Linked DNA regions of Homo sapiens. The protein of the gene in region 5 interacts with the protein of the main gene of each other region in a pairwise test. Each region holds a gene or a part of one and is shown on either strand. Other genes may lie near its edges. The genes, in order: LMO3, TTLL10, TCEA2, SYT6, MTUS2, TTC23 and CRY2.

Evidence for each region.
Region 1: the proteins of MTUS2 (region 5) and LMO3 interact in binary tests that used the Homo sapiens proteins (3 or more experiments, as listed by UniProt).
Region 2: the proteins of MTUS2 (region 5) and TTLL10 interact in binary tests that used the Homo sapiens proteins (3 or more experiments, as listed by UniProt).
Region 3: the proteins of MTUS2 (region 5) and TCEA2 interact in binary tests that used the Homo sapiens proteins (3 or more experiments, as listed by UniProt).
Region 4: the proteins of MTUS2 (region 5) and SYT6 interact in binary tests that used the Homo sapiens proteins (3 or more experiments, as listed by UniProt).
Region 6: the proteins of MTUS2 (region 5) and TTC23 interact in binary tests that used the Homo sapiens proteins (3 or more experiments, as listed by UniProt).
Region 7: the proteins of MTUS2 (region 5) and CRY2 interact in binary tests that used the Homo sapiens proteins (3 or more experiments, as listed by UniProt).

Annotation. Positions count from the first base shown.
Region 1 is NC_000012.12:16,557,528-16,561,773, forward strand, and holds part of LMO3 (LIM domain only protein 3), read right to left. Parts: intron 3,012-4,246; coding exon 2,886-3,011; intron 1-2,885.
Region 2 is NC_000001.11:1,190,286-1,194,531, reverse strand, and holds part of TTLL10 (inactive polyglycylase TTLL10), read right to left. Parts: intron 1-4,246. UniProt on the Homo sapiens protein: Inactive polyglycylase.
Region 3 is NC_000020.11:64,061,542-64,066,280, reverse strand, and holds the start of TCEA2 (transcription elongation factor A protein 2), read right to left. Parts: upstream 3,084-4,739; 5' UTR 2,969-3,083; coding exon 2,897-2,968; exon of another isoform or gene 1,929-2,896; intron 35-1,928; exon of another isoform or gene 1-34. UniProt on the Homo sapiens protein: Necessary for efficient RNA polymerase II transcription elongation past template-encoded arresting sites.
Region 4 is NC_000001.11:114,097,861-114,102,106, forward strand, and holds part of SYT6 (synaptotagmin-6), read right to left. Parts: intron 1,406-4,246; coding exon 1,234-1,405; intron 18-1,233; coding exon 1-17.
Region 5 is NC_000013.11:28,823,339-28,827,584, reverse strand, and holds part of MTUS2 (microtubule-associated tumor suppressor candidate 2), read right to left. Parts: intron 1-4,246. UniProt on the Homo sapiens protein: Binds microtubules. Together with MAPRE1 may target the microtubule depolymerase KIF2C to the plus-end of microtubules. May regulate the dynamics of microtubules at their growing distal tip.
Region 6 is NC_000015.10:99,222,068-99,226,313, reverse strand, and holds part of TTC23 (tetratricopeptide repeat protein 23), read left to right. Parts: intron 1-767; exon of another isoform or gene 768-930; intron 931-4,246. UniProt on the Homo sapiens protein: Participates positively in the ciliary Hedgehog (Hh) signaling.
Region 7 is NC_000011.10:45,860,666-45,864,911, reverse strand, and holds part of CRY2 (cryptochrome-2), read right to left. Parts: intron 4,065-4,246; coding exon 3,880-4,064; intron 2,853-3,879; coding exon 2,764-2,852; intron 1-2,763. UniProt on the Homo sapiens protein: Transcriptional repressor which forms a core component of the circadian clock.

The DNA.
Region 1 (4,246 bases), on a different chromosome or scaffold from region 5:
TTAAGTAATCATGCTCTGTGAATTTAACCAGATAGAGATATGAGCATTTGTTTTTATACAATCTGAATATCTACATTTAGCAAGAAACTCTATTGTGATATATGTCTTGTGGGAAAGTCAAGTTAGTGGACTATTATTTGGTAAATTATAAAAATAACTAACTTTTGAGAACCAGTTGTGTTCCTGACATTTAACATAAATTATTTTATTGAAGTTTCAGACTCTGCAAGAGAGGTATTAGTGTTTCTATTTTGTAGGTGTGGGAATCAAATTCAGAGAGATTAAGTAACATACTCAAGATCACACAGTTAATATATCAGCTACTATATGGTGGTGCTGAAATCTGAATCTCTTCTCACTATAAATGTCACATTCTTTCTACTATTCTACAGGGTCTCATAAGGTCCATTTTTATATTGATAATACTGATAATATTTACAGCACAAAAACTTTTGAAGATACAACTTATATATCTGATGATAGAAGACATATGTGAAGCTCTGTCCATAAAGCTGAACTCAGAAAAGCTTAAAATATCTTAAAAGAATTTTTAATGGCAGGTAAAAAAGGCACAAAATATAAATTGAGTGAAAAAGTCCAAATATCAAACATTAGGATTCTCCCTTGTAACTTTAATTTGCTTAAATGTGAGTGTAATATTTATACAATGTCATTTGTCCTATAGACATAGGAACATGTATGGCTGGCTATATATCAAAATATTAAAATGTTTTCTTTTAGAAGAATGAGACATGGGACAATGTCTTGTTTTTATCATTTTCTATTTTCTAAATTTCCTACTATGAATATGTAATCTTTTATAAGTAGAAAAGCAATGACTTTATGATTCCATAATGGGAACTGCATGGTTACTGGCTGCTATTAGTTGATCAACATGACAAGTCAACAAAAGTATTCTAAATTTACTACTAAGACACCTTTAAAATGTATAAAATACATATATACATGCACATAAAGGTGTCTGTATGGATGTGGGAATGTTTGTGTTTGTATATCCTTATCCCTACCAAAAACATGTGCATTTGCCAATTTATTTTCGTCTAAATGTTACCCTAGACTGAATGAACTTACTTTGATTCTCAGTACTTGCTGGGAAGAGTCAAGACATTGTAAGATAACATCTTACATGACTGTCTGGGTAACTATTACATTATAAGGTACATTAGGCAACAATCTGAATATCTACATTTAGCAAGAAACACTATTGTGATACATGCCTTGTGGGAAAGTCAAGTTAATGGAATATTATTTGGTAAATTATAAAGATAACTAACTTTTGAGAACCTGTTGTGTTCCTGACATTTAATATAAATTAATTATTTCATTTAAGTTTCAAACTCTGCAAGAGAGGTGTTAGTGTTTCTATTTTATGGGTGTGGGAATCAAATTCAGAGAGATTAAGTAACATACTCAAGATCACACAGCTAATATATCAGCTAATATATGGTGGTGCTGAAATTTGAATCCCGTTCTCACTAGAAATGTCACATTCTTTCTACTATTCTACAGGGTCTCATAAGAAGATTCTGCATCAAATAGTACCTTTCAGAGTAAATTACAATAACTGAGAACTTGATGCAACTAATATTTATTGATTATATACTCTGCCAGGTGTTCTCACAGAAAGTCAGTGAATTCATTTTCATTAAAATCTATCAAGTGTTCTAATTTTTGAAATGTTGTATTTTTAATACGTACATTTTAATGTTCTAAAATCCTCTCCATTTATCATATAAAACAGGTGCCAGTAGTATATAGTTTTCACAGAAATAAAAAATATAACTTTCAATAAGAAAAAATGGAATTAAGTGATAATACTTTTCAGCTGAAAGAATTCTCTGAGATGAACTAATCCAGCTTCATATGTTACAAATGAAAAACCTGAGGTCCAGAGAGGGAAGGTGTTTGTTTGGTTTAAGATCGCACAGCTTATTAGTGGCAGAGCCCATATTAGAATTTAGGTTTCCAGGTTCCCTGTTCAACACTTTTTCAAATGCTCCTCTCCAATGATAATAATTGTTTAATTATTAGCTATATCTGGACTGATTCTCAAAGATATTTGAAGTAACTGCAAAAGTACATATAGGACAGGGTTAAAATTTAAGGTAAACAGCTAGATTGGGTGGGGGTGGTGGCTCATGCCTATAATCCCTGCACTTTGGGAGGTGGAGGTGGGAGGATTGCTTGAGGCCAGGAGTTTGAGACCAGCCTGGGTAACATAGTGAAACTCCATCATCTCTATAAAAAATGAAAAAAAAAAAAAATTAGCCAGGCATGGGAGTGCACACCTGTACTCCCAGCTACTCGGGAGGCTGAGGCAGGAGGATTGCTTGAGCACAGAAGTTGAGGCTGCATGAGCCATGTTAGTGCCACTGCGCTCTAGGCTGGGTGACAGAACCAGACCTTGTATTTAAAAAAGCAAAAACAAAAACATGAGGGATAAGGAATTTAAAATATAAAAAATAATAAGAATATAAAATACCTGCAACAAATTCCTGTATATTTGCTTCATTGCCAATTTATTTACTCACATAAGTAGTATAAAAAAGTAGATATTTAAAACTACTTTTAAAAAGACAGGAAAATAATAAAAGAAGGAATGAGTAAAAGAAGTCAGAGTTTACGGTAGTGTTTCCATTTTCTGTTACTTGCTCTTATATGATGCTTTTCTTTCAGGTAGAAGTAAGTCTTAAGACCTTTCTTCTCCTTAGTAGCTTGTCTCTGGCATGGGATTAAAGTTTACAGAACAGAAAAACGCTGAGATTGATTGCTTTAAATGTATGAATATAATTTCCACCTATTAAATAAATAGCCAGCACAGAGAGGTTAACCATTTCTTAGAGACCAAAAAGAGACCTGCTTACCTCTGATTACAAAGCTGACATGCAAAGCAGTCCAGGTGGTAAACATTGTCCTTGGCACGCATCACCATCTCAAAGGCAGGGATGAGCTTACTACAGGCAGCGCAGTTTCCCGTTACACCAAAGAGCCTAGAATAAGAAACATTTTTTTTTTTTTACAAACTCTTACAGAGAAATCTGAGATCGTGAAGAGAGATGATGTTAATATACTCTGTAAAGCTACAATACACAATGCTTTATGATGTACACAAGTGGATTTTATCCTAGGTGTATGCATAAATATTCTTCTGCAATATATTCTCCGTTGACCTTCCTTGATGAAAATCACATCTTGTTTGAGAAGAAAAGGAAAAGACAAATACATTAGGAAGCTTACGTAACTGCACATAAACAGAAGTCAATGGGGGTGAATTCATAGCAAAAATCTCTGGGTTAGAGTATATAGAAAATATAAAAGCAATATAACTTTGCTCTTAATGTTATATATTAAACATTTTAGTTGGGAAAGGAACCAACTAATGAATGATTCACTACTTTTTGACATTTAGTTACTAAAAGGTTTGCCATTATTATTAAAAATACATTTATGAAGAAGCCATTTAAATAGTCAAAAAACATAGAGGCGCATGCATGCACCTTATGGCTCTATACCATAGTTATAGCTATGATTATGTTATTCAAGTAGCACATTAAAGTAAATGAGGCTGTAAACTATATATAGCTAGACCAGAAATTGAAGGATAATATACTGTCAGAACCACTGGAATTGTCTAGGATTTAAAAAAAATTCCTATTTGCTGCAGATTCCTGAGAATCGTTATTGTAATGACCTAAAAGAAGTACAAAATAAAATGTCTCTCATTTCATAACGTGAGGAAATATTTTATCCATTTGCACTGGCAATATTTAAACCAAGTTTCTTTAAAGTTGATAATGGAGGGGAAGAATTATTACAAATAATATTCCATGCATAGTAGTTAATGCACTTTTTTACTAGGAAGCAAACTAGATGAAAAACACCACATCTGCCAGTTTTCTTTTTTCTCCAGTGTCAGGCTGACAGGAGGAAAATATAATGGCTCTCATGGGAAAGACCAAATTAAAAGCAGTTCTAAACTAATGAATTCAAAGGTGCTATAGAGAAAACTCATTTTGGTTATAAAAATGTACTTTTAAAAACCTTAGCCTTTCATTTTATTGAATTTAAGGATTAGGCACAAATGTGCTGAAGTCTCTCATTACTTTCTGTAGACTCCAAAGAGAAGTCTTTTCTTAAGGCATGCATATTCATTTTCAAGTTTATAACTATTTCCTTTTACCAGGATAATGACAGTTGTTGGAAACAGTTGTGAGAATGGTTTCTA
Region 2 (4,246 bases), on a different chromosome or scaffold from region 5:
CAAAGGTAGACCCGCCCTACCGTCCTTCAGGCTGAAATGAAAAGACACTAGACAGTAACTGGAACTCACAGGAGGAAATAAAGAGCCCCAGAAAAGGTCATTGTGTAATTAAATATAAGAGACAGCATACATGTATTTTTTTGTATGTGATTGTTTTGTCCTAAAAGACAACTGTATACAACAATAATTATGAATCCATGTTGATGGACACAAATATACTGAGCTGTAATTTGTGACAACAGCATGAGAGGGGTGGGGCTGTGTAGGAGGAGTGTTTTTGTATACTTTTAGGAGCAGTGTGTTTTTGTATGCTTTTGAAATTAACTTGGTATTAATAAAAAACTGAATTGTTTATTTTAAAACATTTTTTATTTTAGAAACAGGGTCTTGTTCTGTCACCTAGGCTGGGGTAATGTGGTTTGATTGTGGCTCACTGCAGCCTTGACCTCCTGGGCTCAAGTGATCCTCCCATCTCAGCCCCCTAAATAGCTAGGAGGACTACAGGTGCACACTCCCATGCTGAGCTAATTTTGTTTTTTAGAGATGGGGTCTCACTATGTTGCCCAGGCTGCTTTCAAATGCCTGGCCTCATATGATCTTCTTGCCTCAGCCTCCCAAAGCACTGGGATTACAGGCATAAGCCACCACACTCACCCTAATTGTAGTAAATTAAGATACAATATTAATGGTAATCCTCAGGACAACCACTAAAATAACTCAAAAACATATAGTAAAATAAATGACAAGGTAATTAAAATGCTACACTAAGCCAGGCGTGGTGGCTCACGCCTGTAATCCCAGCACCCTGGGAAGCTGAGGCGGGTAGATCACCTGAGGTCAGCAGTTTGAGATCAGCCTGGCCAACATAGTGAAACCCCGTCTCTACTAAAAATACAAAAAATTAGCCGGGTGTGGTGGCATGCGCCTGTAATCCCAGCTACTAGGGAGGCTGAGGCAGGAGAATCGCTTGAATCCGGGAGGCGGGGGCTGCAGTGAGCCGAGATCACGCCACTGCACTCCAGCCTGGGCAACAAGAGCGAAACTCCGTTTCAAAAAAAAAAAGCTACACTAGAAAATATCTCTCTAAAACAATAGGAGGCAGTAATGGAGAAACTGAGGAACAAAAAAAGACAGACATAGAAAACAAATAACAAAATAGCATATGTAAATCCTACCTTATCAGTAATTATTATTATTATTATTTTTTGAGACGGAGTCTCGCTCTGTCACCCAGGCTGGAGTGCAATGGCGCAATCTTGGCTCACTGCAAGCTCCGCCTCCTGGGTTCACGCCATTCTCCTGCCTCAGCCTCCCGAGCAGCTGGGACTACAGTTGCTCACCACCACGCCTGGCTAATGTTTTGTATTTTTAGTAGAGACGGGGTTTCACCGTGTTAGCCAGGATGGTCTCAATCCCTGACCTTGTGATCCACCTGCCTTGGCCTCCCAAAGGGCTGGCATTACAGGCGTGAGCCACCGTGCCCGGCCCTTTATCAGTAATTATATTAAATGTAAGTGAATTAAACTTTCCAATTAATAGACATTGACGGAGTTTCTTAAAAAAACATGATATACCATCTACAAAAGATACTTTAGTTTCAGAGACAAAAATAGGTGGAAAGTAAAGGGATGGAAAAAGATGTACCACACACGGTAACCAAAGTAGAACTGGAGTGTCTACACTCATACCAACTGGAGTGTCTACACTCATACCAACTGGAGTGTCTACACTCATACCAACTGGAGTGTCTACACTGATATGAACAACTGGAGTGTCTACACTCATACCAACTGGAGTGTCTACACTGATATCAACTGGAGTGTCTACACTCATACCAACTGGAGTGTTTACACTGATACGAACTGGAGTGTCTACACTCATACCAACTGGAGTGTCTACACTCATACCAACTGGAGTGTCTACACTGATATCAATTGGAGTGTCTACACTGATATCAACTGGATTGTCTACACTCATACCAACTGGAGTGTCTACACTCATACCAACTGGAGTGTCTACACTGATATCAACTGGAGTGTCTACACTGATACGAACTGGAGTGTCTACACTCATACCAACTGGAGTGTCTACACTCATACCAACTGGAGTGTCTACATTCATATCAACTGGAGTGTCTACACTTATACCAACTGGAGTGTCTACACTCATATCACAGAAAATAGACTTTACACAAAAATTATTACTGCAGATTAAAGGAAAATTTTTATAACGATAAACCAAGAAGATCTAATAATCATAAACATACACACACCCAACAACAGAGCCTCGAAATATACAAAAAACTGACAGATCTGAAGGGAGAAGTAGACAACTGAATATCCCGCTTTCAATACAGAGACAGAAGATTAACGAGTAAATAGAAGACTCGAACAACATTATAAACCAAACAGACCTAACAGACATGTTGGGAGCAGGCCCCCCCCCAAAATCTGGCCATAAACTGGCCCCAAGACTGGCCATAAACAAATCTCTGCAGCACTGTGACATGTTCACAATGGCCCTAACGCCCACGCTGGGAGGTTGTGGGTTGACGGGAATGAGGGCAAGGAACACCTGGCCCGCCCAGGGCGGAAAACCGCTGAAAGGCGTTCTTAAGCCACAAACAATAGCAGGAGCGATCTGTGTCTTAAGGGCGTGTTCCTGATGCAGTTAACTAGCCCAACCTATTCCTTTAATTTGGCCCATCCCTTCGTTTCCCGTAAGGGATACTTTTAGTTAACTGAATATCTATAGAAACAATGCTATGACTGGTTTGCTGTTACTAAATATGTGGGTAAATCTCTGTTCAGGGCTGTCAGCTCTGAAGGTTGTGAGGCCCCTGATTTCCCACTTCACACCTCTGTATTTCTCTGTGTGTGTCTTTAATTCCTCTAGCGCCGCCGGGTTAGGGTCTCCCCGACCGAGCTGGTCTCGGCACAGACATCTACAGAACACTACACCCAAAAACAGGATACACCTCCTTCTCCAGTGCACATGGATATTCTCCAGGATAGACCATATGCTGGGACATAAACAAGTTTCAAGTGTTTTTTGTTTTTGTTTTTTAATGATCCACTTAATGAATAGTAAGTTTGTTGTTTTTTTAAAGATGGGGTTTTGCTGTGTTGCCCAGGCTGGACTCAAACTCCTGGGCTTAAGCAATGTTTCCATCTCAGCCTCCTGAGTAGCTGGAATTACAGGTATGTGCCAACACACCAGCTCCAATAATTTTTCAATAATTTTTAAAGGGTTGAAATTATAAAGTATGTTCTCTGACACAATGGAATGAAATTAGAAGTCAATAACAGAAGGAAAATTGGAAAAATCACAAATATGTGGAAATTAAATAACAGGCCCTTAAGCAACCAATGGGTCAAAGAAAAGCTTACAAAGGAAATTTAAAATACTTTGCAGCTGAGCATCATGGCTCACGCCTATAATCCCAGCACTTTGGCAGGCGGATCACCTGAGGTCAGGAGTTCAAGACCAGCCTGGCCAACATGGTGAAACCCCCATCTCTACTAATAATACAAACAAAATTAGCCAGGCGTGGTGGCAGGTGCCTGTAATCCCAGCTACTCGGGAGGCTGAGGCAGGAGAATCGCTTGAACCCGGGAGGCAGAGGCTGCAGTGAGCTGAGATTGCGCCATTACACTCCAGCCTAGGTGACAAGAGCGAAACTCCATCTCAAATAAAATAAAAAATAAAAATAAAAATACTTTGAGACAAATGAAAATGAAGACAACACGCAAAATCTTATGGATGCAGCAAAAGTGGTGGTCAGAGGAAAATGTATAGCACTAAGCACCTACCTTAAGCAAGAAGAAAAAACTGAAATCATAACCTAACTTTTGACCTTAAGAAATTAGAAAAAGAGAGTTTGAGACCAGCCTTGCCAGCATGGTGAAACCCCATCTCCATTAGAAATACAAAAAAATTAGCTGGGAGTGGTGGCACGTGCCCTTAGTCCCAGCTACTCGGGAAGCTGAGGCAGGAGAATCATTTGAACCCGGGAGGCAGAGGTTGCAGTGAGCTGAAATCGTGCCACTGCACTCCAGCTTGGGCGACAGAGCAAGACTCCATCTCAAAAAAAAAAAAAATTAGTAAAAGAAGAGCAAACTAAACCCAAGGCAAGTAGTAAGAAGGAAATAATAAAGATAGAGTGGAAATAAATGGAATAGAAAACAGTAGAGAAAATCAGTGAAACCAGGAGTTGGTTCATTGAAAAGATCAACAAAATTGATAA
Region 3 (4,739 bases), on a different chromosome or scaffold from region 5:
CTTACTGCTCAGTCAAGAAGGGGAGGGGTTCTGCAGCCTCAAGCATTCCAAGTTGTAACCCACATCCGTGGCAATGACCTCACTGACTTCGTTGTAACCACCTCAGGTCACTGACCCAAACCAGAACAGAAATGCCAGCTCCCCTGGCCAATCATGAGGCTTCAGAGCCACGGCCCCTCCCCAGCAGCCAGGGCCACACCCAGGTGAAACTGCAGCCCCAGGTTCATTCACTCCCCTGTGTCTTGATGCCCTGATGCGCAGGGCAGCCTCTCCCCAAAGCACCCCCCGCCCACCAGCTGTGAAGGGCCAACCCAGGAACATCAGTGTCCCGAGCTGAGGCCAAACTCTCATGAAGGGCCAACCCGGGAACATCAGTGTCCCGAGCTGAGGCCAAACTTTCAAGGGTCCCTCCACTCCAGGCACGGCCACAGCCAACACCTACAAGGCCCACAGCCCCCCTCCTCATCTATCCTCCAGGCCTCTGAGTTGCCCCCAAGCAGGCCAGCACCCCTCGCCTGGACTGTTCCAATGCACCTCGTTCTCTCCGCCTTGTCTCCCCACCCAAGATCTGCGTTTCCTCCAGGTCCTCAACACTGACGAGGCCAGGCACAAACCGGTCACATTTCCACACCAGGCCCGGCAACTCAGTGCTCCCCAAGGGCGCTGAGCCGCCACCGAGGCCCTCTGCACCTGCAGCTCCACCGCCTGGGGCGGCCTCCCACAACGTCTCCCTCCCTCCCTCCCTCCCTCCCGGGCTTTATTTCAACAACACCTTCTCAGCAAGGCCTCTCCTGTTTAAAACTGCAACTGTGCCCTGCAACACCCCATCTCCTCTGTAACACGTGCATGTGTTTCCACGTGTGTATCATTCCCTCTGCCCTAAGGTGACCTGATCAGAGTCCCACGACCCACAGGCCATGGGAGGGGCTTGTCCCACCTACCGCCCGCACAACCCCAGCAATCCGGGTGGCATAGTCTGCTCACGCTGCAGCCCCTCCTGAGCCCTCCCAGGCAGGCCCTGCCTCTTGGGCTGTACAGAGTCCAGCCTTGAGGTGATAGCCAGAGCCAAGGCCACTGTCCCCTGAAAGCCCTGCACCTGCTTACGTGGCTCTCAGTGGGCTCAGGTCCAGAGGCAAAAAAACCCCCACACCTGGCCCCCAGGTCCCCGAGGGGACCTCAGGCACTGGGACCCCCAGGAGGCTCTGCTGGCTCCCACTCCCCACTGCACAGCGCCCGCCTCCCCTCCTCATTCTCCCCTGGGGCTTCTACTCAAGCTGTTCTTCCACCAGAAACCCCCCATCAGTTCTGCCCAGCCCCACCCAGCCCTCCCCTGGCTCCATGACCCATCTTTGCTTCTCCCACCTACAGCTTTTATCGTTTGTGTTTTGTCTCCTTTAAGAAGGGGAACAACTCCATTCTCGGGTCATCTCTGGAAACAGCTATGAATGGTTCGCAGACCCCTACTTTGTGCTGACCAGTTTTCCGGGGTGTGTGTGAACGCAATGATGGGGGTGCTGCACCCAGCAGGAATGAGTGGGAGCCCACCCCTTCCCAGGGCAGACCCCAGTCCAGAACGCTGGTCACAGGAACCCAGACTCAACCCTGCTCAGCCCAAAAAGCTTCCCCCAAACCCCCACTGCAGTCACACAGCCCTGGGGTGGCTGCACAAATCACCCAAAGCCCATGACTCAGCCACCTTCACCGCCCTGGGCTGGCCTGGCAGACACACAGCTGGCCCTGCCCCAGGAGTTCACAGTCTGGGTGGGAAAGCACAGGTCACGTTTATTGAGCCAGCCAGGAGCTCCAAATGACCTGCGGCCAGACCCCTCCCCACCCCCCAGGAGGCAGGCAGCATCCTCTAAAGATGCTTCTGTGGGAGGGTGCAGAGGTTGCCAAGGTCATGACGCTGGAACTGGACCCCCACTGACCTGGCCCCTTCAAAGTCCTCACACACAGCCTCCTCCAAAGTCTCGCTGTGGCCGCAAGACAACAGAGGCCCAGGCCGCAGTGAACAGAGCCGGCCAGAGGCTCCAGCGCCCAGACACTCCCAGAGGAGGCTTGCCCGACCTCCTGGCTCTTATATAAGCACACCGGCTCTTTTCGGAGGGTGTCCACATAACTACCCACAACCCAAGTTGCTGCGGGCTAAGTCCTGGCTAAAGAAGGGAGAGAATTTATTAGAGAAACCTGGTTCTTGTGGGGTGGGGACAGACAGGGAAGAAAATGGGCCCACAGGCAAGACAGGTATCTGGCTGGCCTGTGAAGGAGGATGACAAGGGCTGGGAAGAGGCAGGGGAGGCACGGAAGCTCCAGAAGAAAAGGGGATCCAACCTCAGACTCCAAACTGTTGCCGGCGACAAATGCTATGGGAGACGGAGGGTGACAAACGCTGTAAGAGACGGAGCGTGGGAGAGGGCTGAGTTGGGGGGCGGGGCTCGGCCTGTGAGGATGCCCAGGCCGGGATGGAGGAAGGCAAGGGGCTGGCGCGGCCCGCAGAGGAGGCCCGAACACCCCGGGGGCTCCGAGAGGCGGGACAGGGCCAAGGAAGGAGTCGACGGGCCAGGCTGGGGGTCTGGAGTTAAGGGACAGGGAAGGGTGCGGAGCCTGTGACTGCGGGCGAGGGAGGGGTCTGAGTCCAGAGCGGGTGGCTCTCCCGGGACAAGGTCCAGGCCTGATCGCGGCCTCTGCCGGGGTTGCGGGAGTGAACGGCAGGGCTGGCCCGGGGCAGGGGTCTCGGCCACGGGTGGGGGTCTCCCCTGCGTCCCGGTTAGTCTCTGCCGGGGAGGGGTCTCGTCCTGCCCCTCAGGTCGTCTTCCGGCCCTAACGGGGGTCGGCGGGCTCGACGGGGTCTCGGCGGGGCGGGGTTCCCGGGGTCCTGGCGGCCCGCGCCCCTCACCGCGCTCTTCTTGGTCACCATCTTGTCCAGCCTCCGGGCGATCCGCGCAATCTCCTCTTCCTTGCCCATCATCGCCTCAGGAGCAGCGACCCCCGCGCCCGTCGCGCCCGCCTCCGCAGCCGGGCAGGACCCCGGCCCCGGCCGTCGCCACCTCCCACACCCGCCGCAGCCGACGCAGCCCCGCCGCGGACGACAGACCCCCGGTTCAAACCCTCGGCCCCGCGGCCGCGCGCGGCATCCTAGGATGCGTAGTCCACGCGCCCGCCTGCCGCGCCCGCCGCGCCCGCGCTCTGGACCACAACTCCCAGGCGCCACGCGGCGCGCACAGCCTCCTGGGAAGTGTAGTCCTGACCCACCGTCGCCAGTGACTCGTGATCCCACAATACCCCGCGAGGGAGGCGCCCCGGGCACGCCCCTCCCAGAGCTCAGACATCCCGGAGCGACCGGGCCCCAGGAGGCCCAGGAATCTGCTCCCTTCTCTCCTCCTGCTTCGGGCCTTGCTGTCCCGCGGCGTCCTTCGGTGGGTGGCTCAGGACCCAGTGCCCTCAGCCCTTCTCTTGGGCCCCGCTGAGCCCTGCGCGCGCCCCACTTGGCCTAGAAGGCCGTCCCCAGCCTCCCAGAGCCCAGTTTGGGTCATTCGGGCTTCTGAGTAGAGTTACTTCTTCAAGAGGCCCGCGCACACTGGGAGGCCTCTTGTGGGGCCCTGCAGGTGTGAGCGCGCGGTAGCTGGACGTGGCGTCTGGAAGGGGCCATTGCTGGGGTTCGCGAAGTGCGGGGGCCTCTGCCGAGGCTGCGTGGGCAAGGCCCCTGCCTGCAAAGTCAGCTACCAGGGAGCAGATTCTGGGCTCTGCACGTTGACCACTGTGTCTCAGTCTCCCCACCTGTGAAACTGGAGTTAAGTGTCCGCCTCACAGGGCTCCCGTCAAGATGATGTCAGCTGATTCACATCACATGCCTGAGAACAGAGAGGGGATGGAGCATGACAATTAGTGTTCATTGACATTGTTGTTGGAGGTCCCTAGGTAGGGCCAGACTGCAGGCAGCCAGAGAGATGGCCCAGGCCTAGGGAGGGTTGAGGACGGGGACAGGTGCAGGGCCAGCATCCCCACCACTGCCTGGCAGCTCCCCAGTAATGCAGATGCTGGGTGGTTTCCTGGAGAGGGCACAATCCTGGGGGAGGGTGTGGATCAAGGAGCCTGTAGTCATTCAAGTTCAGGCCAACGAACTATGAGGCCAGGTGGCAGGTGGAATGGGCTGAGCATTTCTTGGGCTGTCTGTGGCACTAATCACATATAACTGAGCTTCCCCGCAGCCAAAATGAAAAGGAAAATATGGTCAGTTAAGAGACTCATCTTAGCCGGGCAATAGTGGCTCATGCCTGTAATCCCAGCGCTTTGGGAGGCCCAGGCGGGTGGATCACCTGAGGTCAGGAGTTCGAGACCAGCCTGGCCAATATGGTGAAACCCCGTCTCTACAAAGAATACAAAAACTAGCCAGGTGTGGTGCCGGGCACCTGTAATCTCAGCTACTTGGGAGGCTAAGGCAGGAGAATTGCTGGAACCCGGAAGGCGGAGGTTGCAGTGAGCCAAGATAGCACCATTGCACTCCAGCCCTGGCCAACAACAGCGAGACTCCGTCTCAAAAGAAAAAAAAAGAGAGAGAGAGACTCATCTTGGTTGGGCACAGTAGCTCACCCCTGTAATCCCACCACTTTGGGAGGCTGAGGTGGGCGGATTATCTGAGGTCAGGAGTTCCAGACCAGCCTGGCCAACATGGTGAAACCCTGTCTCTGCTAGAAATACAAAAATTAGACCGGGCATGGTGGCTCATGCCTGTAATCCCA
Region 4 (4,246 bases), on a different chromosome or scaffold from region 5:
TCTCATTGTGGCCCACTCTGAGGGAGAAACAAAAGTCCCAGCACTGGCTACCAGACATGCCCTCAGAAAAGGAGGTCCAGTGTGGGGGGTGGTAGGACTCTGCCCGATGGGTCTAACTCAGAACTCTGAGCTCTGAAAACAGATGCTTGGCAGGGCTTCTGGGTGTCAGTGGCGGTGAAGCCTTTGCCTAGTCCCCTTCAGTGGACACTGGACACAGGCAGATGAGCAAAGGTTATAAACTTGTTTGGAATCTCAAGAAGTGGTGGGCAGATAGCCTGAGTATGCGAGGTGAGACAGTCTAAGTCTCTTCACTTATTTGACCCCGCCAACACATTACAACCTCACTGAGACATCAGTATTTGCAAATAAATCGACAGTCTCTGAGCACCATTTCTCCAAAACCCCAGTGGCTGGAATGTGATTTATTCACTCGGTAAGAACATCAATTATCTCTTAAGTATGTTCGTCAATACTATGCCTGAGAACTTGGGCTGAAAGTCCTGTATTGAGGCTTTATTGCATGGTTTCTTTCTCCTTTAGCTAAAGTGACAAGTGGAGAGAAGAAGTTATGGGGACCAGAGTAGTTGAAAAATGTTTTTGAGCCAGCCTAGATGGAAGAGCAGGATGAGTGGAAGAGACGAAAAATATCTGAGGAAGGGGAGATCCGATTGGATGGATATGCTGGGTCCAGATTAGGGAAGGCCATCAGAGTCCAAGGGAAAAGCCTGGATCACAGGAGCCATTGATGGTTCTTGAGAAGGGCAGGTCCAGGAAGAAAGCTGTCATTTAGGAAGATGTGTCCTTAGTATGTTGACCGAATTGTGGCAGGAATTGATGGAGGCAGGGGTCAGCTAGGAGGCTGCACAGCCATCCCAGGGTGACAGTAGTAGCAACAGCAGAAATAGAGAGGATAGAGGGGCATTTCAAAGGCCAGATAATAGGACTTGGTGCCAGATGGAAGAATGGGAATAGCAAGGGGTGAATTCAGGGAAACTGATGGACAGAGCTGCCCCTGACGGAGATAGGCCAGTTGGGAAAAGAACTTTGAACCTTTGCTAAGGGAGAATCTATGCTCTTCCTCAAACTCCTGCACCCTTCTTGGGTACAGATAGATTTGAGGCCTGAACCCTAAAGCTGAGCCCTGAATCACAAGGTCTAAGGTCAAGGAGCCCTGTGCTGGTGCTGGAGTGGGAGTGAGGGGTAGAATTACGTCCCTCTAGGACGCCTACCTACCGATCATAGTCCATGACTGAGATGAGCAGGCTGACTTGATCCATGTTTTCCGGGGGAATGTCAAAGATGATGGCCTCATTGTAGACAGGATTGAGAGTGTTTTTCTTTATGGTTGTTTTCTTCTTCTTCAGCCTCCGCCCATCACAGAGCAAGGACACTTTCACATAGGGATCTGTGCCAATGGGGACAGAGAAAAGGGAATGGAGTATGTTAAACAGATGTCTGCAAACATCATTTGCAGCAAAGGGACCGAAGCCCTAGACCTACTGCTGCTCATCAGATGGTATCAGTGGGTTGTTAAAATAATTAAACCACCTTGTATTTATGTAGCACACCTGTCTCTGAGGACACTCTGTGCTTAATAAATGCAGAGTCTTTAGCTACCTCAGTATTCTTGGGAGAGCGCCTAATGGACTTTTACTAATGGGGAAGCTGGCCCCATATCAGACATGACACCTGCCGATAGGTATGCAGTTCACAGCCCTAAATCTCAGCTCGTCAATCCCTGGCTGACTCAAAAAGGTGATGAGGCTGAACAATGACACTATTTCTTTTACCTATGTGGAGTACTATTCTTTGAGTGGCTTTTTTGTTTTACCAGAATTACAAACCAAAGGATAAAGGTTTTGGGGCGGGGTAAAAATAGGACTCAACAATGGCCAGGGAGACACAATGTGTCAGAGTGAAATGAACAGCAACAATCACAATGCTGTTCATGTCCTCCCCACCTGACAACATAATTTTGGGTCCCATTGTCTCAATAATCCCATTTCCATTTGGCATCTAGAAGGCGTGAAGTGGCCCTGCTCTCTGCTTCCCTGGAAGCCATTTCCTGCCCACTTCTGGACAGTGGAGAATGAGGGAGCTGTGGCCCGGGGAGACTCAGGGCAGCTGGTTGACATTTCCTTTCTCAGTGGGATCTTGGATTCTCTCCATCCTGCAAAGAGATGCTTTTATTGAACTTCCATGTGCCTCCCATCCTTTTGTTTTCTTTAGTTTTCTGAATGGGTATTTCATGGTCATCTTTCTACCCTGAAATTTTCTACTCACCCAAGTGAAGTGAAACCTAGTGTATCTCATAGCACAGGTGTCTCGGTCACCATCATAATTGTTATTTATGCTGCACAGCTCAAGAAATGGGAGGGCGGCTCACAGGTAATAATAGCTTTCGAGACGCTGATGTGCTGAGACACCTTGTTGCCCAGAAGCCAGGGCTCCTGTGAATCTGTCAGGAGGTGCCAGCCAAGCAGCTGCTCCCCAGCTCTGTGATTCATAGGCATATGGTTCTATCTCCTGGACATCGAGCACCCACTAGGGCCCTGTACTCCCTGGCATCATTCAGATGGCAGATGAGGCACACATCCCTGGTGGAAATTAGGGAGAACTGTGACACCTGATCAGAAACTCCAAGCCTGAAAGGCATTTTTGTAGACACCTAAATGAGCTGCCGACTAATCCATGTGGCAGCAGTAGCTATGCCTTAACCATGGGGAGATGAGGTTGGGTTTATGGAGAGACCATGAGGTGTTTAATCAACCTGCTGTCTCAAACTACACATTTGAAAGGACCCTCTCTTAGGGATTTTCAGTAAAATGGAAGTAAGAGTTTTGAGAACCGGCATGAGGCTCTGGTTTCCACAGATTCCATTCTCTATGGATATGCCCCAGGACATTATTCAGGTTCAGGTAGACAGATGGGCAGAGCTAGCCCCAATACCTGTCTTTAACACAGCAGCTTGCAAAATCCATAAGGATGTACCTTTTCTTGCAAAGTGGCTCCAGACTTGAGGTTGCTCAGGTGCCGCCTCATTCCCCTGCTCTACCTATTTCCATACACTCCCACATCAGGGCAGATTTCCATATCATGAGGCTTGGAAAAATAGAGGCAGAGCCACTTGTCCCATGGGCCACTGAGCAAATGTCTTAGCAACCTTCCCCAACTCTGTTCATCCTTACAAGGCATATCCATTTTTTTTTAAGAGACAAGGTCTTGCTGTTTTGCCCAGTCTGGTCTTGAACTTCTGGGCTCAAGTGATTCTTCCACCTCACCCTCCCGAGTAGCTGGGATTACAGGCATGAGCTACTGTGCCTGGCTGATATGAAATTTATAAAATTCAGTGCACATATTTCCCTTGCAGGAACCAACACTTTCACCAGCATCCATGAAGCCAAGCAGACAGATGACCGTTCCCTAGGCTTTTCTGGGGCAAAAGTCTGCGGTTTCTAGTGGAATGCTGGCCCCAGATGATCTTGGAGGTCCTTTCCTCTCTAACAGCCTATGATGCTCTACGCAGCTGAGGGAGGGGACACAAAGACCAGCAGTGTATTTCAGCCTCATTGTCATGGGAGCAATCAAAATCCAGCATTTAGAATGTGCTCACCACCCCTTTGTAGCATACTGGTCCTTATTATTATTTTGTGCTATTTTTAGTGTCATGGTTCTAGCAGATAGGCTTAGAGAATTGATTCAGGGCTAGTTTAGATCATTGAGAATAGGAAGATCCTGGGTTTTAGACATCAATGCCACACAATTCAAGAATAGGCAATTAATAAGCTCCATTCAATACCTAGCTTAGTCCAACATCGAATAAGTCTGGGCTGAGGGAAACCTCAAACTCATCCTCAAGAACAGGAGATCTAGTTCGAGAGGCTCCTAGCAAGTACACCCCCACTGCTTCACCCTTGGGCCAGGTTCCTCATGCTGTAAATTCAACCATCCATTCATTCGGTATCTATTTATTGAATGCTTACTGTGTTTTATCCACTGTTCCAGATACTTGCTTACATCAATGAACAAAATAGACAGAAACTTGTAATGAAAAGAAGACCCCTGGATCTTCGGAATCAAGCCAAGGTTTAATAACAGGTTCCAAACCCAGGTCAAAAAGAGGGGCAATTGTGAAAGGGAGGTTAGAACTTAGCAAGAACAAAATCTCACACCCCAAACCCTCTGATTCAGAGCAGCTTTTGTGATGACCTCAGCAGCTTCACCATAGGCTTTCTCTCCAGCACAT
Region 5 (4,246 bases):
AAGAAATGTGGCTGCAGGTCACATTCCTGCTTTTATTGTTATTCTCTAAACTGAGATATTAATGCTAACTCACATTTATATTTTATTCCAATATCCTGGGCCATTATCAAAATTATAATCCTAAAATTTAGCAGAAAAATTTCAGTATAAAGTTTGGGGGTAGAGGACAATGTATTTATATTAAAATAACTTCAAAATCTGCTAGTAGTGGCAAATTAGCTCACTCAATATAAAACTAATTACTACCTGCCAGTTAAACTAATACAATGTGGATTTAAAAAAAAAGAATACTTGCTAGAGTCTTCAGAAAACTAAACCTAATGTTTGGCATGTTCACTGTACAAACTTCCAATGATACCATGTAACACTAATGGAAAATGCATCAGGCTTAGAAACATCAATTTCAACCAAAATTATTCTGCTACATGATTTCAATTCTCAAATTAACTTTCCCTGAAATAAACTGATAGTAATATAAGAATTAGAAGCAAAAAAATGTGTTTGGCTTAATATGTGGCAACATTTCCAACCTGAGAACACAATTATTTGTGTGTAGAAAAATACTGCCTGTCTTGAGAAGCTATTTTCAATGAGTAATGTCAAACAGCTTAGCACAAAGATAATTAATTCAGGATGATTTGAGATTACTTCTCCCGTATTTACAGAGCTAGTGTTCATATTAAATTTTTAGACTAGTACTCTGCAGTAGCAATCTGATGAAGTGTGGAAAATAAACTTCCCTATTAAGTGTTATTTGCTTCTGCTGTTTTATTATCATTTATTGTAATCCAAGGCTATATATTCCTGGCTTTCTCTATTGTACTTTTGGGGAAAAGCACTTAAAATCAGTGTATCAATATCAGCCTGTTTCTGGACAAATGTATTTGCCTTATTACAGTCTTCATAGACGCTAATGCATTATGTTGGCTTTTCATTTCTGCAAGGTGAGTCAAACTTTCTAAAGTCAGTATCAGGCCATCATCAATACTGGTTTGGCCCTAATCACACACACTGCTGGCTTATCTATAATGACTGTGTGTAAACACTCTTTTGTTTTTCTATGGGAACTGAACATACTGGTACAATGGGTCTACAGTAAACAGAGTAAAAAGACTAATAAGGAGAGGACCTCAGAGATCATATAGCCTATCCTCTCTGGGACAAGGGAAGTACATTTGGCTGAAATACAATAATCTTGTTTTTAAAATCTCTCAACAGATAAACAGTCTCGTCTTCTATCTAGTCTGATAATAAAAAATAGAAATAAAGAGACCAAAGTAATCATTTTTTATCTATTCATTCATCTAACCATGTATTTTAAATTTATTGATTTATTTACTTATTTAGCAGATGATATGACCATCTATCTGGAAAATCCAAGGAAAATAACCACAAAACAAGGTTATAATTAATAAGAGCTTGAAAAGTGCTTGGTTACATTACATTTTAGAATAGCTTTCTATATATCAATTATTGGTTATATGTAATACAACCAACATATAGAATATATACAACCAATTAGAAGAAGGCCCACTTACAAAAGCTAAAGAGGAGTATCAAATACCCAGGAATGACCTTAAGTTCCCCATTTTCCAAATACAATAGGGCACGTGAGAGAAGCTTGCAAAGTAAGAGACCACATGAAGTCATGACAGGCACAGAGAAGAGTCAGGAACACCAGACTCCTATAAATGCCACCTCCCCAATGCCAGCTGCATATGCTCACTCAAGCTGCTGTGATGCTCCCTACCCACCAGCAAACAATCCAAGGAACCTCTATATGAGAGATTTGTGTTTTGGTTGTTGAGAGTTTAAAATGGTTACAAGCTAACAGCTTAAAAAATGAAACAGCTATCCCATCCTGGTTCCATACCCCTGTCCCCATGAGTATAGAAAGGCTGTAACTAAAAACCAGCAGACAGGCCCTGGCTGCTGCTCCCCAATGGTTTCTTCACCTTCTCCATGGAGAAATTCATGACAGCCTGTTGCCAGGGGTGTGTGTGTGTGTGTTGTTCTGGTTAGCAGATGTTGAGCAGCCATCTGGGCATGCAGGAGCCTCGGTCAATGACTGAGTAATTTCCCCTCCTCAAACCCTAACCAACCCCAGTTCCCTTTAAGCTGGGGATTCTCTCTAGGCTCAGTTCAAATCAGAAAGTTGTTCTAGGTTCCTGATATTAAGACATTCCTCGAGAAAGAGCCGTGTGGTTTCCACTGTCCACATCTTTTATACATCATAGTTCCATTTGTTCCCAGGGTGACTGCAGGGAATCCAGGCTGGAGTGAGCTTGCCCCCAGCCTCTTTCCTATGACAAACCAGTGGGAGCCATCATTGAAAACATACACTCTCATTCCTTACTCCTATTCAGGTATGGTCTAGGCTGGATTCCGATGCCCTGAGAGGTCCTCAGTTCCAAGCCACCATACCACTAAGGCCCCAAGAACAACACCAGTGTTCGTGGGCAGCCTCAGGTGGCTGGAGTGGGGGATGGGGCTGCTGTCATGAGGAAAAGCTGGCCATGAGCATGAGATTCCCCCACTGCGGCCTGCAGCTGCCTCCCTGTGCTCCCCACAAATGCCAGCTGCACTCTGGTCAGGTGGCTCACTCTTCCATCTCCTTTAGGGCTCTGCTCAACATCTCCTTTCAGTGAGGCATTCCCTGACCACACTACTTGAAATAGCAATTCCCCATAACCCACTCCTGCTCCCCCATCTCTGATTTATTTTCTCCATAGCAGTATCCATACCTGATATATTAAGTACTTAACCTCATCTGATTCATTCCATTACACTGTAAGTTCCTCAAGGATGCAGTTTTTGTCTGTTTTATTTGCTGCTCTATACCTAATATGTAAAAGTGCCTGGCCTATGGAGACACTCAAACTTTTTTGTTGGATGGTGTTTAAAAAAAAAAAAAAAAGCTAGACACTGGTTAAAGGCAGTAAAGACAGATTTTACCCAGTACAACTGCAGTGAGAGAAAGAGACTTCAGTATAGAACTGAGCTCAACTCCAATTCAGGTAGAGGTGACTGGGTGTTTTAAAGGGAGAATAAGGAAGTAGGGAGGAGAAATGAGAATGTGTGGGGGCTCAAGCAGGGTCAAGGACACAGAACATTACAGCAATCAGGCAAGGGGGCTTGCCAATGAGACTAGGCCATCTGTGACTGCTAAATGGCACTTGTCAAAGTTAGGCTCCTACCCATCTACAGAGACTAGAGGACAGAGCCCTATCCTCCCTGATGATTACACTTCAAAGGAATGGCTCACAGACACTGAGGAAGACACTCCAGGTGGTAGGAGATACACATATATCTCAAAGGCACAGAGAAAGAATTACAATTGTAAGTTTTTAATAAACGATCTAACAAAATGAAAGTCAGGGGCCTATTATCATTTGTGTGGGCTAGAACAAAAGATAAATTCTTTGGGGCAGCCTTGAGCTTTTCTAGGTAGGAATGCAAGTGAGGCTGGGTGATCCCAGACACATGGCCTTAGGCTGCTAGATGCCATGTTATATGGTTTGGCTGTGTCCCCACCCAAATGTCATCATGAATTATAATTCCCATAATCCCCATGTGTCATGAGAGGGACTAGGTGGGAGGTAATTTAATCATGGGGGAACTACCCTCATGTTGTTCTCGCGACAGTAAGTTCTCATGAAATCTGCTGGTTTTATACGGTGTTTTTCCCCCTTTTGCTCATTTTTCTCTCCTGCTGCCATGTGAAGAAGGACGTGTTTGCTTCCCCTTCCACCGTGATTCTATGTTTCCTGAGGCCTCCCCAGCCATGCTGAACTATATGAGTCAATTAAACCTCTTTCCTTTATATATTACCCAGTCTTGGGTATGTCTTTATCAGCAAGGTGAGAACAGGCTAATACACCATGCTACAGTGTTTTCAAATCCGTTGGAGGGTGGGAGCACAGACAAAATTGTTTGTGTTGAAAGCTGCAGTTCTTACGGGCCAAGGTTGAGGCCCAGTTGAGAAGAGGGCTCAGGGGAGCCTGACTAAAGTTTGGTCAAAAAGAGAGTCTCTGTGGATGGGTGGGTGGATGGTAGATAGATGACTGATGGATGGGTAATTGATAGACAAGGTATACCCGTTGGTGGGAAGGGTCAAGATGATAAGATCTAAAGGCATCCAAATTCACATAGGAAGTAGAAATCATTTCAGAGAAAAGGGGAAACTCCTTGACTCTTTTCAACAACTCGTTTCAAACATGTGTGTGGTAGATATTATAAGCCTCCC
Region 6 (4,246 bases), on a different chromosome or scaffold from region 5:
TAAAGCTATTCCCTTACATGGCCACAGTACAGTGATCGTAATTAGGAAATTAATGTCAGTATAATACTATTATCTAATCTGTAAACCTTGTTTATATTTCTTCTTAATAATGTCCTTTACAGAAAACAATCAGACCCATGGTTCAGTCTGTGAATTCATGTTAAATAGAGTTGTCATGTCTCTTTAGTCTCCTTTAATCTGAAACAATTGCTTAACCTACTTTGTTTTTCATGATCTTGATATCTTGGAAATATATACTCTAATTGTTTTGTAGAATATCTCTCTGTTTGAGTTCGTCTTATGCTTCCTCATGATTCTATTCAGATTGTACATTTGGAGCAGGACTACCACAGGTGTGACATGGGGCGCTCCTTAGTGCGTCCTGTCAGGAGGTGCAGAATGTCTGTTTGTCTTCGTACAGTGATGCCAACCTTGAACACTTGGTTAAGGTGCTGTCTGGCAGGTTTCTTTACTGCAGAATTGCCATTTTTCCCTTTGTAATTAATAAGTATTTTGTGGGTAGATTCACTGAGACTATGTATATATTTAAAACTTCACTCTGCCACCTGAATCAGTTATTACTATGATGTTTGTCACATAGCCAGTCTCTGACTTCCACATTATTTCAACATTTGTTTGTTGGCATTCTATTATAAGGAAGAGCTTTTCTTTCTTCACAGCTTATTTATCATTCATTTATTCCTATCAGTATGGGTTCAGGAAATTGTATTTTTCAAATACACTACAACCTGTTATTTTCATGGAAGCTCGGATTGTTCCGTATCTGCCAGTGAGAGACCCTTCCAGCTGGCTCCTGAGTCCTCAATGCATCCCCTTACGGTTTAACCACTTCCTGGCGCTACCACTTGCTGGTAAATCATCTCGACTTTCCAGCCTTAGACTCCTTCATCTTTAAACTGAGGGGACCAGGTGAGATGATTTCCAAGGTTCCTCCCAGTTTTGAAATTGCCTTCCTACTTCGTGCTTGTCTTCTGTCTGCCCCTTACTGATGCCTATTGCTAAAGTCACTGGAACTGGTAGAATAAAGGTTGGAAAACCAATAGGGATATTTGGACCATGCCTTGTAACAAATAAGGACGTGAAGGAAGGACAAGCTGTTTCTTGTATACCTCTATCCCTACTCAGGTCCTGAGAACCAAGGCTATTATCAGGGAAGCCCAACTCAGCCTGCACCGTCCTCTTCGCTGGAAATCTGTAGTTGGGACAGATTCACTATCAAAACAGATCTACCTCTCTTTTTGTCTGTCTGGATTCCATGATGTTGTCATCATTTCCGTGTCTTTCATACACTGTAGTTGTTGTTCTCTTTCTCTCTCTCCAAAGTAGTCATTCCCTAAACTTCCTGTGTCTAGAGGCAATAAAAAGGTGATTCCCAAAAGAAGTACAAACAGCCAGTTAACACATGAAGATGCTCAGCCTCATCAATTTGGGAGAAAAATGTGGACTAAATCAAGGAGAAATGGGCTAACTGACAAACTGACAAACTAAAAACCAAACAAAAACTCCACAATTTGTACTCAGTTCAACGTAAGGGGCATTTCTGCTCACATGTGCTGCGCTGAAAGTATGAACTGGTACAACCTCTGGGAGAGGCACTTCAATAGCTACTCACAGCCTCAGAATTTTGCATATCCTTTATACAGCAATCCCATTTGTGGGAATTTGTTTTGTGGAAATGTTTATGGGTATGTGCAAAGCTATCCATACAGGATATTCAGTGAGTAAGAAATTTACAAACAGCTAAATGCCCAATAAAGAGTGGATTGAGTAATGCAGTTATGATATAGTCATATAATAAAATACTGTGCAGCCATTCAAACTTATATCATAGAAGATGACATGAGAAGTTATTCGTAAATTGTTAAAACAGCAGCTGTAAACCTGCATGTAGTTTATGAACCTATTTTTGAAAAAGAAAAAATATATAAAGATAGATTCACAAAAATAAAGAATAAAGGGATATTTATCTACCTAGATATCTCTAGGCGGTAAACTTACAGGTGATTTTTAGTTTTTATCTTTTTGCTTATCTGTATTTTGACAATGAGCATACATTATTTTTGTAGTAAGAAACGTTACTGTAGAAAAGAATATGACAGTCCACCTTCTTTCAGCACTTTATGGTGAGCATGTATTCCTTAGCTTCCTCCTGCTAGGTCACAAAAGTGACTCTCCTTTGGCCAACTGTCTGGCTGTGTATTTTTGTCAAGAAAAATGTTGTTTTAGGGTGAAGGTATTTCCAATGCATGTAGGAATTGTGTGGAAATGCAAGCCCTTTGAGCTTTGACATTGATGGGCGTGCATCCTAGGTGTATCCTGGATCTTCTTCACAACTCTGTCCTTGTTCTTACCTTTCTTCCTCTGCTTTGACCCCTTCAGCTTTCTTTCTTCAGCCATCTCTCTTGCTGTTCTGACTATCTGTTGCTGCATGACACCCCAATAACTTAGTGGCTTAAAACCAAAACAGCCATTCATTTTTCTCATGAGCCTGCGGTTTTTGCAGAGCTCAGTGGGGTTTGCTCAGCTTTGCTCCGCACAGCATCAGCTGGTCTTGAAGGGTCTGGAGAATCTGCTGCCAAAATGGTTCACTCAAACTATCAGGCCTTTCTATGTGGGTCTTCTCTCCATGGGGCCATGTTGGCTTCCTCACAGCACTGTGGTTGGATTCTGTATTAGTCTGTGGTGCTGTCCTAACAAAATTCCACAGATGCTGTGGCTTAAAGAACAGAGTTTATTTCCTCACAGTTCTGGAGGCTGGAAGTCCAAGACCAAGGTGTGAGCAGGGCTTGATTTCATTCTAAAGCCCTCTCTCCTTAGTTTGTAGATGACTGCCCTCTTGCTGTGTTCTCACATGGTCATTTCTCCATATGCATGCCCATCCCTGGTGTCTTTTCCTCTTCATATATAAGGATACCAGCTGTATTGGACTAGGGTCCACCCTAACACCTCCTTCGAACTTAAATCACCTCTTTAAAGACCTCATCTTCAAAAACAGTTACATTATAAGGTGCTGGGGATTGGGACTTAAATATATGAATTCAGGGAGGTTGGGGAGGAGACACAGTTCAGCCCATAACAGGTTTCAAGAGTGAGTACCCAAGAAGAGACAGAAAGCAAAGCCACCAGTTCCTTTAGACTGTGGCCTGAAAACTGGCACTGTATCATTTCCTCCACGTTCTATTGGCCAAACAGTCATAAAGCCCAGATTCAAAGGGAATGGGACATAGACCCCCATCTCTGAATGGAAGGAGTATCAAATAATTTTGGAGCTGAGGTTTTGTTTGTTTGTTTGTTTTGAGACGGAGTCTCGCTGTGTCGCCCAGGCTGGAATGCAGTGGCACGATATCGGCTCACTGCAAGCTCCGCCTCCCGGGTTCACACCATTCTCCTGCCCCAGCCTCCCGAGTAGCTGGGACTACGGGCGGCCGCCACCATGCCTGGCTAATTTTTTGTATTTTTAGTAGAGATGGGGTTTCACCATGTTAGCCAGGATGGTCTCGATCTCTTGACCTTGTGATTCACCCATCTCCGCCTCCCAAAGTGCTGGGATTACAGGTTTGAGCCACCACGCCCAGCCTGGAACCGTGTTTTAAAACTGCCAGCTCTGCTTTGAGGATATGGCTGCTCTGAGATCACCTGGAGCTGGGAATCCAGTTTTCTGTTCTTTTTGTCCTATCCCTGAATGAAACTGTGCTTCTTGCTGCTTTAATCAAGTCTGTAAGTCCTGCTGATCTCATTTGCTATGCTAGTGCAGATGGCTAAGGAAAGTTTTGAATTGAGAGCTAAACTATAGTATTTGACAGCCTGGGCAACATGGCAAAATCCCATCTCTACCAAAAATACAAAAAACTAGCCAGGTGTGGTGGTGCACACCTGTGGTCCCAGCTGCTCAGGAGGCTGAGGTGGGAGGATTGCTCGAGCCCCCTGGAGGTCGAGGCTACAGTGAGCTGATATCGTGCCATTGTACTCCAGCCTGGGTGACTCCAGGTGAGTGAGACCCTGTCTCATACACACACACACATACACACACACACAAAGTGTACTATTTGAAAACACTACCATTTGCCCCTGTTGTGCCTGCATATGTAGTAGCTGTTCATTGGTGGGCAGCTGGGAAACCTAGAGAATGACTAGATGTCTGCTCTACTTTTTCTATTTTTTAAATTCTATTTCTTTTTTTCACCCTTAAATGTACTATAAATTGTACTTCTTATGTTTATTGTCT
Region 7 (4,246 bases), on a different chromosome or scaffold from region 5:
TGTGGGAGCCTGTAATCCCAGCTACTCAGTTTTCTTTTTTTTTTGAGACAGAGTCTCATTCTGTCAACCAGGCTGGAGTGCAGTGGCATGATCTCGTCTCACTGCAACCTCCGCCTCCCAGGTTCAAGCGATTCTCGTGCCTCAACCTCCCAAGTAGCTGGGATTACAGGCACTCGCCACCATGCCTAACTAGTTTTTGTATTTTTAGTAGAGATGAGGTTTCACTATGTTGGCCAGGCTGGTCTCGAACTCCTGACTTCAAGTGCTCCACCTGCCTCGGCCTCCCAAAGTGCTGGGATTCTTTTTCTTTTATTTCTGAGACCCCACTCTCTGTCACCCAGGCAGGAGTGCAGTGGCATGACTTCCTGGGCTTAAGTGATTCTCCCACCTCAGCCTCCCAAGTAGTTGGCACTACAGGCACATGCTGCCACACCCGGCTAATTTGTTTTTATTTAGAGATGAGGGCTTGTCATGTTGCCCAGGCTGGTTTTGAACTCCTAGGTTCAAGAGATCCTCCTGCCTTGGCCTCCCAAAGTGCTAAGATTACAGGTGTGAGTCACTGTGCCTGGCCTTAAAAAAAACTTTAATATGTTATTTAATTTTCTTTTAATCTGCACATTTTATGCCATTTTTTTCTTTTCCTTTCCATTGTTCTGGGAAAGAATCCAGGCCATCTGACTTGCCAAGATTCCCACAGTCTGGATTTTGCTGACTGTATACTCATGGTGCAGTTCAACAAGTGCTGTGTCCTGTGTATCACCTGCACATTGGTGGCTAGTACCAGAAACTGGACTGGACTCAGGTTTGATCCCTTTGACAAGACTACAGGGGGCACATAATGCTTGCCTCCTTCTATGGTGTCAGCAGTCACCAATACATAATGCATCATTATTGAGGGTTACAAAATGGTGGTATTCAAATTCCACCATTCCTTTTTAATTTAATAATCAGAATACTTTTATAGAGAGATGCTTGCCCTCATCTACTATTGAGTAACCCAGTGGTAAAGATCATGTAGCTTCCTCTGCTTTTCAGTAACAGCATCTCATATTCCTGTGGAGAATCAGCCTTCCCTGATCCTAGTCCGAGTGGATAAAGCAGAGCTAAACCTACCTTCCAGTTCTGGGAGCGGACTCATGATGCAAGTCTGGCCAGGGAAAGCACCACCTCCTATACCTGGCCACAGTCATTGAGTCAGGGACAGTCACATGACCCAAACCAGGACAATGAAAACATGCCTTGGGACTTTTCCTGGTGCTTTCGGAAAAGAGGCACATACCTTCTTCTATCTAGTATTGCTAAACTGGCATGAGTAGGTGCTCCCTTCAGATTTGGAGAACTGAAGGAAGCTAAAATAAACATCCTGAAATCAGGTTCAACTCCTGTATCTCTAGCACCATTTGTTCTCCCAGATGTGCAGGACACAGTATTTCCTCTGGGCACCACTGAGTCTGAATATGTCCATGGCGTAAGGGCCCTTGAGAGAAGGGGCCCGCTCTCTGGGGGTATGTGGAAAAGGAGCTCCTGTCGGTGACCTAAGGGACATCCTTCTACAAAATGTTCTCCAGCTGATAAAAACTAACCATAGATGATAGCTCTTTACAGGTTTAAGCCTTACTCTACTCCTGCAATCCCATTTGTCATCTCCACCCTTCTGCCCCTTGGCCCAACCTTTGTCTTCAAACTGGGCCCAAGAATCTCTAGGTGAACCTTTTGATGTGGACAGAGATAGCTAGTCTCATCCTTTAAGTCTGTGGGGCTTGCTTTCGTCCCAGGCTGAAGGAAACAACCAGGTAGAAACATCGAGGCTGTGGGCCTTCACTGTTGACTGGACACCTCCAGGGCTGGAGAACATTCTTCCCAAGTAGATTTGCCTTGGCCTCCTTGTTCTATTATCGTCATCATCTGGCTGCTAGGCAAAATACCTAGCCATCTTAGCAGGCATAGAAAAAGCTGACATTTTATAAACCAGCTGCAGGGGGCAGGAAACTAGGAGCTGACTGTTCTCGGACATGAGAACTTTCTCTGCTCCTCTAGCTGCAGGGGAGTGAGGACTTTGTGACACTGTGCCTCTGAGGCCTGGGCTTCTTTCCTCCCCAGTTCTCACTGCACTGGGAGGTGGGCCATTTGCTCTGTGTCCAAGCATATGGAAATCAACACGCTGAAAGAGTTCCAGCAAAAAGGTGCGGAGACACATCAACACAAAATAATCTTATAGATTTTACTAACCAGATATCCTCTTAGTAGGGGGAACCTGCCCACAGATGAAAGAAAAGCAATCCGACATAGCTTTAGAATAACATAGAACAAGGTCTTACTGTGTTATAAGGTGAGCATTCCTAATTCAAGAATCTAAAATCTGAAACACTTTTGGTCCCAAGCACTTTGGATAAGGGATACTCAACCTGTAATTACTAACTTTGTGACCTCAGGCAAGTTACTTAACCTCTCTAAGCCTCAATTTTGTAATCTGTAGAATGAACAGCTTAGTACCTACCTTGCAGGCTATTGGAAAGATTAAAAGAAATGCCAGCAGGTGCTTAACCCAGAAATGCTGAGCCTAGTGACCAGCACATGGTAAGTACTCTCTAAATGGTAGTTGCTGTTAGTGTTGCTGTTGTTATGGCCATCAGGAGGATAGGAGGATTTTTCATTTTCCAAACAATGTGAGCTAAGAGGGACTAAAGGACATGGACATGACCTGTATCTCCTGCTGTGTGGATATCAGTATCTGCAGCTCTGTGTCTCAGAAACGGCCCATACCTTCCGTTCCAAGTGCTTATCCAGGCGGGCCAGAGCTTCTGTCTCTCCTCCCTGCCAGACAGCTGGACCAAGTCCTTCAGTGGGGAACCCTGAAGAGAAGGAAAGGTCACAAGACAGGAGGTTTGACCATTTCAGTGATAGCCCGGCACGGCTGTTCTGTTATTTGAACTTTATGAGAATTGAACCACAGTGTCTCGGTGCTACTGGGGGTTAGATAATCCTTAAAGTTTTAGCGTTTTCTAGGTCAACTTGGTTCTCTTCCCACAGTCACTATTTTCTCTGCTTTCCCCTGCACCCTCATCGCTCCAGGTAGATGACAACAATCCCGGACCTCCTGCCTTTTCAGATTAGCTGGCAACAACTGTGGTTTTCAGGTGAAAAAGGCTAATAGCTTTGTTCAGATCAAAAGACTGGAGGTGTGGCTCACGTCTGTAATCCCAGCACTTTGGGAGGCCGATGTGGGTGGATCACTCGAGGTCACCAGTTCAAGACCAGCCTGGCCAACATGGTGAAACCCCGTCTCTACTAAAAATACAAATATTAGCTGGGCGTGATGGCAGGCGCCTGTAGTCCCAGCTACTCAGGAGGCTGGGGCAGCAGAATTGCTTGAACCCGGGAGGTGGAGGTTGCAGTGAGCCAAGACTGTGCCACTGCACTCCAGACTGGGCAACAGAGCCAGACTCCGTCTAAAAAAGAAAAAAAAAAGGTAAGAAAGAGGGAGGGGTGAAAGAGTGTAGTTAGTAATCTGAGAGGCTGACAGATTCCCTGCTTTCAACAGAAGCAATACTAGCTATCTTGTTACTGAGAAGCCCATGGACACCAGCACCAGGCAGTGCCTGTATTGTCTGCGAGAGGTTAGTACAAAAATAGAGGCATGATCTAGAACCAGAAACAGAAGATTACATGTATGAGTATGAACAGAACAAATACTAGAAGGACACAGTTTAAAATTAATTGTGGTTACCTCTGGGTGGTGGAGTAATAGTGACTGCCATTTCCATTTTTGTTTTCCTGTGCTTTCTAACCTTTCTATAATGACATGCATTACTTTCACAAAGAATTTCTTTACACAAAAGCAGGCACCAGCACAAGTGGCTCTGGGCAGGAAGTACGCACCCAGCTCCTCCAGGGAGGGCACGCCGTAGGTCTCGTCGTGGTTCTCCTGGATCTCGGCCCTGCAGCTCTCCATCTGCTGGCTGGTCACCAAGCCCACTGGCTTCTTGGGCAGCTCCATGCGGCTGATGATGGCCTGAAAGCGCTTGTATGTAAGGGGTGGCTTCTGCCCATTCAGCTCAATGATCCTGGGGAGCCCAAAGCATAGCTAGTGTTACCCACATGGCCCTGTGATGTGGGTCCCTGCCCACCCAAAAAAGAACCCAGACTCTGAAGGCTTTGAGGGTGGCTTTCCTCATCCACTCACAGGTCCCATGCCTGAGTGGAAAGGAGGGGGCAAGGGAGGCCGCATCTCCATTTTACCGAGAGG